Linked DNA regions of Homo sapiens. The protein of the gene in region 3 interacts with the protein of the main gene of each other region in a biochemical or structural test. Each region holds a gene or a part of one and is shown on either strand. Other genes may lie near its edges. The genes, in order: KLHL21, CENPV and CYLD.

Region 1 (3,747 bases), on a different chromosome or scaffold from region 3:
TGTTAACTTAATAAATTTTTTTAGGCATATGAATACATATAAATCAATTTGGGTCATACAATGAGTAATCTGATTTTTCGCTTTATAGCTCAAACATCTTTCCATTTCAATAAATACATCATTATTCTTCAAGGCTACATAGTAAGACTGAAATATGATGTTTAAAAATCCCTGTTATTGGGAATACAGAAAAACCGTACTCAATCCTCAACTATGGAAACATTATTGATTTAATCACTGGACTTACGCAAGATGGGTAAGCTGACCCAGGGGACGGGAGTTCTTTTCCCTACAAACATTCCACTTCCTGGCTACTCAGCCTTTCTTGTCACAAAGCCTGTGCAAGGAAGCTATTGGCCCTGCTCCTGGGCCCAGGAATGCTGCCGCTGCCTTGAATAGCTGTGTGAACAGTCCTTCTATGGGCAACAGGCGGCCCGCCTGGGTACCTGAATGTTTTCTGATTTGGGCCTGTGCTGCCCATGCTCACCCTGAAATTCAGACCAGATGCATTCTTATGGCAAAATGACGTGAAACTCTTAAGTAGAAGAGAAAGCCTGCGGTTCTCATTTCAGAGGTGGAATAAAAACAAAATGTCTTCTGGAAACGCTACGCGGCCCTAGACCTCGCTGGAACCAGGAAATGATAGCCAGCTCCCATGCGCGTGGCCTGCTCTGGGACCCACGTGGGCGGGCGCCTTCCTCAGGAATGCGTTCTCAAAGGCCCACCGGTGTAGGGGGGCTGGAAAACAGCACAAACCCAAGTGTTCTCTGCAAAGCAGCAGTCCTGGTGGTGAAATAGGGGTCTTTTCTAAAACTGAGCAAAGCCTACCTTCCACTGAGGAAAAAATGGCCTCCAAGGGAGGGCTCTTTTTCCCCTACAAGTGACATTCAAAGTGGTGCTGTGTCTATCGGAACTAAAATAAGGGCGATTCCTTCTTTCACCATTCCCCACCGCAGTACAAGTGACGGCGGGACTGTGCTTAGTGGCGTCATCTAGTTTCAAGGCGGTCTCCTATCTGACTTTGAGCCCTCGCTCTTTATACCCAGTTACCCTCTCGTGGAGTCCGAGCAGCTGCTTCAGGGAGGCCCGGGAGCCCCTAGGGCGGGCAGCCCCGGAGCCTGCAGCTGCGACGCAGACTCGGAAACTACAACTGCGCGTGAAGCCGACTAAAGTTAACGCCTGTGTGATTGAGTCAGAAGCTCCTTCAGGAACACAGGAGTGGGGCCGACTCCTGGAATCCGGCCCCGGGTCGCTTATAAATGCGCCAAGAAAAAAACGTCACCGAAAAACTTTATACGCGTTCTTGCTTTGGTCCAGAATGGTAAAAAGCCTATCCTTTGAGTGTGTCCCGTGATGGGGTTAACTAGCAACCCTTGAAACTAGTGGAACTCAAAAGCAAAACAAAAAGCCATTGTACCCAGCCGCCCCGGGACCTGGGCCGGCGCCCTTGGGAAGTCTGGCGTGAAAGGAGGGGTGGCTTTGGTTTCAGGGCCGAGCTCGCCTCTCCCGGGTTGGGTTCAGCAGCCGGGCCGGGTGGGTCGTGGGCAACCCCGGGAGGCCCCCGGTCCCGGCGCGCGGCGAGGCCGCCCTCGGACCTGGCACTTGTCACTCGCTGTCCCCGGCCCGGGCGTCAGCGGGGAGACGCAGAAGGGCGGAGGGAGGGAGCCGGCCGCGGACAGCGGTGACTCAGCCTGCGGAGCCGGGGGCGGGCGCCGCGCGGGGGACAGGCGAGCCCGCGCTCGCGGGGGGCGGTGGCGCCCGGCACAGAGGGGTTAAGGGGGCGGTGCAGACGTCTCCCCGCCCATCCCGCCCCTCGAGAGCCGCGGCGCCCCGCCCTATTTATAGCAGCGGTGCCTAGCGCGCCGCGTCTCTCCGCAGGCCCCGGCCGCGGCGTCCTCGACAACCTATCGAAGGCGCCATGGAGCGACCGGCGCCCCTGGCCGTGCTTCCCTTCTCGGACCCCGCGCACGCCCTGAGCCTGCTGCGCGGCCTGAGCCAGCTGCGCGCCGAGCGCAAGTTCCTGGACGTGACCCTGGAGGCGGCGGGCGGGCGCGACTTCCCGGCGCACCGTGCGGTGCTGGCCGCCGCCAGCCCCTACTTCCGCGCCATGTTCGCGGGGCAGCTGCGCGAGAGCCGCGCCGAGCGGGTGCGCCTGCACGGAGTGCCTCCCGACATGCTGCAGCTGCTGCTGGACTTCAGCTACACGGGCCGCGTGGCGGTAAGCGGCGACAACGCTGAGCCGCTGCTGCGCGCCGCCGACCTGCTGCAGTTCCCGGCCGTGAAGGAGGCGTGCGGGGCCTTCCTGCAGCAGCAGCTCGACCTGGCCAACTGCCTGGACATGCAGGACTTCGCTGAGGCCTTCAGCTGCTCGGGACTGGCGAGCGCGGCGCAGCGGTTCATTCTGCGCCACGTGGGCGAGCTGGGCGCCGAGCAGCTGGAGCGGCTGCCACTGGCGCGCCTGCTGCGCTACCTGCGGGACGACGGGCTGTGTGTGCCCAAGGAGGAGGCCGCCTACCAGCTGGCGCTGCGCTGGGTCCGCGCTGACCCGCCGCGCCGCGCCGCGCACTGGCCGCAGCTGCTGGAGGCCGTGCGCCTGCCCTTCGTGCGCCGCTTCTACCTGTTGGCGCACGTCGAGGCCGAGCCGCTGGTGGCGCGCTGCCCACCCTGCCTGCGCCTGCTGCGCGAGGCGCGCGACTTCCAGGCGGCGCGCTACGACCGCCACGACCGCGGGCCCTGTCCCCGAATGCGTCCTCGCCCGTCCACCGGTCTCGCCGAGATCCTCGTGCTCGTGGGCGGCTGCGACCAGGACTGTGACGAGCTGGTCACTGTCGACTGCTACAACCCGCAGACGGGTCAGTGGCGCTACCTGGCCGAGTTCCCAGACCACCTGGGCGGAGGCTACAGCATCGTGGCGCTGGGCAATGACATCTACGTGACGGGTGAGTGGGCCAGGGGCTGGGCAGGCTCTCTGGGGTTGAACCTCGCCGGTACGGGAGCCCAGCTATTCGCGGGGGAAGCGCACAGAGCCTGGAATCCTAGGGGCGCACCTGAGTCCAAGCTGGGGCTCTGGTGACTACATGTCTCTGGGCGATACTTTTAACCTTGAAGAAGGGCCCCTTGTGTGAGCCGGGACAAGTAGCTGCTTGTGGGTCTCTGTGCCCCGTGCGGCCGGGGCTGCCAGGCTGAGCCAACTCCGTGCCCAGGAGGTGCCTCCCCACTTGGTTGGAAGATACTGGGGCATTCACCCCGCACAATGGGTGCTTTCTTTTTCTCCTTAAGGAATCCAGGGACGGGCAGGAGGCCGACGCCCGGTGAGGCATCTGTTCCCCACAAGCCGGGGAATTTCTCCCTCCCTGCTGAGCCACACCGGGCCCCCTGACTCACTCTTTGTCACCCGGTGACAAGGTTCCCTTGGGCTTGCACCTAGGCTCTGTGCTCTGGTCACATGGTGTTTAGGCTGAACTCCCCGGAGCCTGTAAACATGGTCACATGTTAAGAGGTTTTCTTCCAGTTACTTGGCCCAAACCCCAAAACACTGCCGAGTCATGGTAGGCGGGTCCCAGTCCGCCTGAGTTTGGGCTTCTACGGTTTTTATTAAAGATAAATCCCAGTTCAAACACGAGGCTACCTCCTTTGTCGGGGTGAGGAAGGGCGGTCTCTGTGACTGCTATATAAGGAAAGAACCCACCAGGCAGGCGTGTGAGGCGGTTATCAGGCAAGGAGGTGGGGACTGGGATGTCACAGCTG
Region 2 (3,747 bases), on a different chromosome or scaffold from region 3:
CAAACTCTTGACCTCAGGTGATCCGGCACCTTGGCCTCCCAAAGTGCTGGGATTACAGGCGTGAGCCACCATGCCCAGCCATGTTCTTCATTTTTAAATTGAGCTAAGTCTTACACACACTGAAGTGTTTTTATGTGTTTTACACACCTCCATAACTACCACCCAGATCAAGATAATGTAGAGAACATATCCAGTATCTTTTTTTTTCTTTGAGACGGAGTCTTACTCTGTTGCCCAGGTTGGAGTGCAATGGTGCAACCTCCGGCTCACTACAACCGCCACCTCCTGAATTCAAGCGATTCTCCTGTCTCAGCCTCCCGAGTAGCTGGGATTACAGGTGCCTGCCAGCATGCCCAGCTAGTTTTTGTATTTCTAGTAGAGACAGGGTTTCCCCATGTTGGCCAGGCTGGTTTCAAACTCCTGCCCACCTCCGCCTCCCAAAGTGCTGGGATTACAGGCATGAGCCACTGTGCCTGGCCATATCCAGCATCTTAGAAGAGTCCTTTGTTCTCTTTCCCAGTTAGTTCTCCTCAAGGATAACCACTCCCCACACCCAGCTTTTTTTTTTTTTTTTTTTTTTTGAGACAAGGTCTCACTCTGTCACCCAGAGTAGAATATGGTGGTGTAATCACAGCTCACCGCAGCTTCCACCTCCTGGTCTCAAACTCCTGGGCTCAAGCGATCTGAGCACCTCGGCCTCCCAATAGTGTTGGGATTAGGCATGAGCCACTGCGCCCGGCCTACGTGCCGTTTTAAAATGATGTTCAAGAATAAGCAAAACCAACCTATGGTGGTAAAAGAACAGTGATCGCCTCTGTTTTCTTTTGCCTGAGGGAAACTCTGGTGTGCTGAAAATGTTCTGTATCTGAAGTGGTGGTGGTCACATAAGCTGTACATCTAAGATATTTGCACGTTGCTGTGTGTAAACCATAATTCCAACAACAACAACGACAAAATGGCAAGGTGGGGCTCGGTGGCTCACGCCTGTAATCCCAACACTTGGGGAGAACTAGGCGGGAGGATCGCTTGAGGCCAGGAGTTAGAGACCAGCCTGGGCAACATAGGGAAACCCGGTATCTACAAAACAACAATAGCAACAATTCGCTGGGGCGGGGGGGGGGGGGGGGGGGCGCCGCCTGTTGTTCCAGCTACTCAGCTACTCCAGAGGCCCAGGCGGCAGGATCGCTTGAGGCCAGGAGTTCTTGGCTACACTGAGCCGAGATCCCGCTACTGCACTCCAGTCTGTCAGATCCTGTATGGAAAAAAAAAAAAAAAGACAAAATAGTTAAACTATGCCTTTAATTCAATAAACTATTAAACTAACAATACCATGAAGAAAATCAGAATAAAGAAGAAAGATAGGCTGACGCAGGAGAATCGCTGGAACGGTGAGGCGGAGGTTGCGTGAACCGAGATCGCGCCACTGCACTCCAGCCTGGCGACAGAGTGAGACTCCAAAAAAGAAAAAAAAAAAAAAAAAAAAAAGAAAGATAGGCTGGGCCCGGTGGCTCAGGCCTGTAATCCCAGCGCTTTGGGAGGCCGAGGCGGATGGATCACCTGAGGTCGGGAGTATTCGGCACCAGCCTGACCAACATGGTGAAACCCCGTCTCTACTAAAAATACAAAATTAGCCGGGTGTGGTGGCGAATGCCTGTAATCCCAGCTACTCAGGAGGCTGAGGCAGGAGAATCGCTTGAACCTGGGAGGCGGAGGTTGCGGTGAGGCGAGATCGCGTCACTGCACTCCAGCCTGGGCAACAAGAGCGAAACTCGGTCTGAAAAAAGAAGAAGAAGGAGAAGGAGAAGAAGACTATCTGGGTTCCATCAACGATTCTCGTGCCTTTTGTCTTTAAACTTTGGTGCTGCCTTCATCAAAATCATACTAATGAAATTCGACGCGCGGGTCATTCATTTAATTAAAATGAAACCCCAAATCTGTTGACTATTGGTATCCTCATGACACTGTTCTATAATGTGACAGAAAAGACGAAGGTGAAGAACTATGGTTTCGGCCGCTGTTACACAGGAGGTAGCAGGTGGCAGGCCGTTTACACAAATTAGCTCGTTTTTGGAGACGAAGTTACCCCAGGCTGCCCGCTCGGATGAGCCTGCGAATTCAGGCCCAACCCAGGCCCCTCCAGGTCGGGAAGGTACGAAGAGCCCGCTGGATTCACACAGGGCAGGGGCGCCTTCGCAGGTGCGAGTGGATTCTGGGTATCGCGAGCGTAGGCCCAGGCGCAGCCCCTCTGCCTGCGGGACTGAACAGGCAGGTGCGTCCCAGCGGCCGGGCGGGCCGGGTCTCCCTCCTGCGGGCAGGCGCCGCGCTGCGGGGCGCGGCTGGCGGAGCGGGGCAGCCGGGCGCAGCGCCCCCTGGGCCTGAAGACTGGCGGGCGGCGGGGGCGCGCGCAGGCCGGCGGGGGCGCGCCGCGCTGCGAGGCCTGCGCGCCAGGCTGCGGGAGCCATGCGGCGATCGAGGAGCTCTGCGGCCGCCAAGCTGCGCGGGCAGAAGCGGTCCGGGGCCTCCGCGGCCCCCGCGGCCTCCGCGGCCGCTGCCTTGGCACCCAGCGCCACCCGCACACGGCGCTCCGCTAGCCAGGCCGGGAGCAAGAGCCAGGCGGTGGAGAAGCCGCCGTCGGAGAAGCCGCGGCTGAGGCGCTCGTCGCCGCGGGCCCAGGAGGAGGGCCCGGGGGAGCCGCCGCCGCCTGAGCTGGCGTTGCTCCCGCCACCGCCGCCGCCGCCGCCGACTCCCGCGACCCCGACGTCCTCGGCGTCCAACCTGGACCTGGGCGAGCAGCGGGAGCGCTGGGAGACGTTCCAGAAGCGGCAGAAGCTTACCTCCGAGGGTGCCGCCAAGCTCCTGCTAGACACCTTGTGAGTGCGGCGGGCCGGGGGGCGCGGGAGCCGTTGCCACGCGGACCCCCTCGGCAGGAGTCGGGCTCGCAGCCCGCGTGCAGGCCTTGGGCGCCTTTCAGCTCTGAGCCTTCCACGTTACGGAGCCGACGCGGCTCCCCCGTTAGCACTGGGGTTATTCCTTAATTCTAAGGGCGGCGGGGCGGGGCGGTGCTTCTAGGGCTGTGTGGCCTGGGAATGGAAAGGGGGCTTCGTCCGGAGCTTGAGGGCGCGCGCAGCCGTCTTGGGACACAAAGAGTCTTTCCCGGCCATAAGCATCGTGCTCGGGGACGTTGTCTCTTGCTGGCGCGCAAAGGGTGTGGGGGCCTTTCTTAGTGAAAAGAACATAAATCCCACGGCTTTCTCTTACCCGAATCCCCTTTTTTTTTGTGTTTGCACACGTGTTTTTGAGGGTGGGTGGAAGGGAAAGGTAGAAGCGTTGAAGGAAGCATGAATAGTTTTGAACTCACTGGGAAGCAAAATCCCGTCATTGTTCCAGGCACTGCCAGGGAGGGAGCAGGGGGCGGAGGTTATTGATCCGGGAGAGAAGCGCGCGCGAAGAGATGCTCCGGCCTCGCGCGGCGGCGGGGATACCTACGTAGGGAGGCTTTTATGTGCTCAGCCAGCTAATGCTCCCTGCCGCTCGCCCTCCTGGCTGCTCCGCAGTCTTTTAGATGGCCCGAGGAGCATCTCGAGTGTCCGCGATTTGGGAAAGAGCTTTTAACTGGGCTGTTAAAGGGCTGCCTTCTTTTCTCCAAATGCGATCTGGATTCCTGCCTCGGGGAACAGTTGTGCTACAGAGAGATATTTTAACGCCCTGATATTATATTTCAGTGTCAATTTTACGAATTAAAAAGAA
Region 3 (3,747 bases):
AACATATTATTGTGTTTCAACTCGTTGGTAATTTTCATTCAGTATTTATTACCAAGATATTCATAATCACACAGTTATCCAGCCTGAAGTAAGATAGTATTTAGATGAGTCATTTGTGATATACTCACTCAAAGTGATTCAACCTGCAAAATAATAAGAGAATACAAGTGAAAATTTCTCCCTTCACACTGACCCCTCACCCCCACCTGCCCTACGGTGACTTTGAATTTAGCTGTGCTTCTTTTTCCTTCAGTTGTCTTACTGTTCCCTAGGCCTTTACTTAAAGGCAGAAGCTGAGTGAATGTGGATTGATGTTGGGTTTTTTTTTGTGTGTGTTCTCTCTTTCCTCTTTGTTTTTTTTTTTTTTTTTTTTTTTGAGACCAGGTCTTGCTCTGTCACCCAGGCTGGAGTACAGTGGTGTGATCATAGCTCTCTTCAGCCTGGACCTCCTGGGCTCTAGCGATCTTCCCATCCTCCAGAGTAGCTGGGACCCTGAGTAGCTGGGCCCACAGGCAGACACCACCACACCCGGCTAATTTTCTTTTCTTTTTTTTTCTTCCTTTTGGGACAGGCTCTCATTCTGTCACCCAGGCAGGAGTGCGGTAGTGCTATCACAGCTCACTAAAGCCTTGAACTCCAGGGCTTAGGGGATCCTCCCACTTCAGCCTCCAAAGTGCTGGGATTACAGGAGTGAGCCACTGTGCCTAGCCTAGATGATGTAGTTTTCAGTATCTAACTCTGTACTGAAAGCGTAAAAAATACCAAACTAACAAACCAACCTTCTTGATGATAAATAACTCATTTACAATGTGATTTAGATCTTTCCCTTCATATTGTGTTGAGTCAGTTTTTACTGCTTGGGGTACCTAAGACTTTAACTATTTAACTACTATGCACATCCCAGTGAAAGTAGACTGTTGGTGTTATATTCACTTCTACAGTGGGGAGAAATGTATGTTAGCATATTTTTATTGCAATACTGGTATTTTGAGTACATAAAATAAATATATATATATAATGGAGTGTGTATATATGTGAGAGAGTGTGTGACAGGGTCTTGCTTTTTCACCCAGGCTGAAGTGCGGTGGCGTGATCATGGCTTGCTGCAGTCCCTCCCTCCAGGGCTCAAGCCATCCTCCCACCTCAGCCTCACAAGTAGCTGGGACTACAGGCACATGCCATCACACCTGGCTAACTTTTGTACTTTTTGTAGAAATGAGGTTTCACTGTGTTGCACAGGCTGGTCTCAAACTCCTGGGCTCAAGCTGTCCACTCACCTTGGCTTCCCAAAGTGTTGGGATTACAGGCGTGAGTCACTGTGCCTGGCCGAGAATATTAGTGATCATTCAGTTGATTGCCTTGTATATCTCTAGACTCGAGCCGTAAAGTTTCCCATTCAACTTTCTCTATCAGTTGCAGTGAAGAGAATCAATTTTTAATAAGAGAGTTTCAAACTTGTTCTTAATATATTCTTTCTGAAAGAGGAAAGGCTGTATCCTTTATTTTTGGATAATGCTTTTGAAATATTTGATAACTTGTGCTTGACTATTTTAGTTGTCTAACATGACCCATCCTATTGCTAAGTCTAAGCTCATTTCCACTTGTGCTAATGAAAGTTAGGAAAAAAGTTACCACTCCTTGTAGAGTTCACTTTAAAATATGGTACTTGAAAGCTATAGTTTATTACCCTAAAACATTTTTATAAACCTAGCAGTTATATCAATTTTTACTGTGGATTCTCTTCCTTAAATTATTTCAGAAAGCAAGCTTATAATCAAATTTATTTAACATAATGTCCTAATGCACATATAGTAATTTAGTTTTGTCTTAATAATAGATTATTAGCATTAATGATTTTTATTTTAAATTGTGACATGAATAGTTAAGCTACAGGACCAATAGAGTAGGAGCTGTTGGTATAAAGCAATTATTAAGATTCAGGGAAGTTTCTGATTGTAATATTTGAAGACATTGTTCTTAGGAATTTTAAAAAAGAATTTCTTTTCAAAATAGAATTACTTTACCTTTTTCAAAAAAATTTTGGCCCTAAAAATCTAAATACATTTTAAAGAGAACCAAAACAACAGCTCGTTTTTTTGAAAGTTGCTTTTTGACTGTCTTAACCTTCTGCTAGTGACCAGACTCTCTATTCAATAAAGCCTATGTGCCCTTTGCTCCTAAAGACCCTTTCAGAATGTATGCATTCCTCTTTTCACGATTGTTGCTTTGTGTTTTCAAACACACAAACATATTTCACTACCTGGCTTCTCAGAACTGATTCGAAGCGATAAGTTGGAAAGCAACAAGGCCGTAAAAGGAGTCAAATGCATACAGCAGGAAACCACAGAAAATGGCTGATTGCAAGGGAAAACTCTAGACAGTAGATCTGTAGAAAGCATTCGCGACCTCAGGAAGCATAAGATACAGCCTTTTAACAAAATAACAGCCTTGCAGATCAAGAGTTATGCAAAATAATTTACAGTCATAATGATACATCAATGATCAAGAAAAAAATAAGGACATTTTCTTGTGGAAAGTGTTGACATGTTAAAAGCATTTTGGTCAAAAAGAACCAACACTTCAGTTTGGTCCTTTAAAGGAATCCAACCAAATTGAGGGGTTGGATAGCTGTTTGGGCAGCCCTTATAAGGAGTTTTGTTTATATTGTGTCAAGATAGAGGTTTCCACAGGTGTCTTATATAAGTGGCAAATATAAATTGATCCCATTCTTGCTGAAGTAGACAGTGCCCTCAAGTGGAATTAAAACAAACACACCACAAAAAAGAAGAAAAGAGAACCACTTCATGCTACCTCTGCTTTTACCCTCACTGAGTGTTACACAGATATTTCAGTCATGTTGGTTTGAAGGAGGTGCCTAACCTGTATCCTGTCTTGGCTAAACCACATGTCTCATGCTGGCTTGTAGAGGGAGAGACTTTTAGGAACGTTACCATTATGGAATACTTCATTATCTAGCAGTGCTTTCTAAAAGAAGTGTTCCACTGTGTATAGATTTGCCAGGTTGTTTGATCATTAAGTGATTAAATCTAAAATTTGGTTCTTTAGGAGTATTTATTTTTTAATTGCTAGAATAAAATAAATATGATAGTGCTATCAATTGCAGCCATTACCCAGAATAATGGAAATGGATACCTCTATCTCAAGGAAGGATGAAATGAAAGTACTGTCTTTGGAAACCAGATAGCCACATTCTTATGACAGGGATACCTAGGAAGTATTGTTTTCAGCAGAAAATTAATTAAAATAATGAAGTAAAGTCTCAGTTTAAATTAATGAAATTGTGTAGTTTTTTAACCATCAGTTAAAATAGGTTTGAGAATGAGCCTACTTCATTGGAAAGATTATTATTCTTGTAAAAATTTTAAATGAGGACCAGGTGCAGTTGCTCATGCCTGTAATCCTAGAACCTTGGAAGGCCAAGGTGGGAGGATCATTTGAGTCCAGGAGTTTGAAACTGCAGTGAGCTATGATCGCACCAATGTACCCAAGCCTGGGTGACAGAGCGAGACCCTGTCTTAAAAATAAATAAATAAAATAAAAATAAATGAAAATTTGAAAAAGAAATAATAGAAAGAAATTATAATGCAGTTATATCATGATATTCCCTTGCTATGTAGTACAAGTTTTGATGCTACAAAATTGATTTTTAAAATATTTTTAATATAGTCATATTATAATATCTGATATTTGCGATTTGAGAAATCAGATAACTATGATTAATGTGAT

What was found.
Region 1: the proteins of CYLD (region 3) and KLHL21 form a complex in vitro, tested with the Homo sapiens proteins (one study listed by BioGRID).
Region 2: of the proteins of CYLD (region 3) and CENPV, one has a biochemical effect on the other in vitro, tested with the Homo sapiens proteins (one study listed by BioGRID).

What each region holds. Positions count from the first base shown.
Region 1 is NC_000001.11:6,600,989-6,604,735, reverse strand, and holds the start of KLHL21 (kelch-like protein 21), read left to right. Parts: upstream 1-1,866; 5' UTR 1,867-1,918; coding exon 1,919-2,939; intron 2,940-3,747. UniProt on the Homo sapiens protein: Substrate-specific adapter of a BCR (BTB-CUL3-RBX1) E3 ubiquitin-protein ligase complex required for efficient chromosome alignment and cytokinesis.
Region 2 is NC_000017.11:16,352,150-16,355,896, reverse strand, and holds the start of CENPV (centromere protein V), read left to right. Parts: upstream 1-2,427; 5' UTR 2,428-2,460; coding exon 2,461-2,870; intron 2,871-3,747. UniProt on the Homo sapiens protein: Required for distribution of pericentromeric heterochromatin in interphase nuclei and for centromere formation and organization, chromosome alignment and cytokinesis.
Region 3 is NC_000016.10:50,745,010-50,748,756, forward strand, and holds part of CYLD (ubiquitin carboxyl-terminal hydrolase CYLD), read left to right. Parts: intron 1-3,747. UniProt on the Homo sapiens protein: Deubiquitinase that specifically cleaves 'Lys-63'- and linear 'Met-1'-linked polyubiquitin chains and is involved in NF-kappa-B activation and TNF-alpha-induced necroptosis.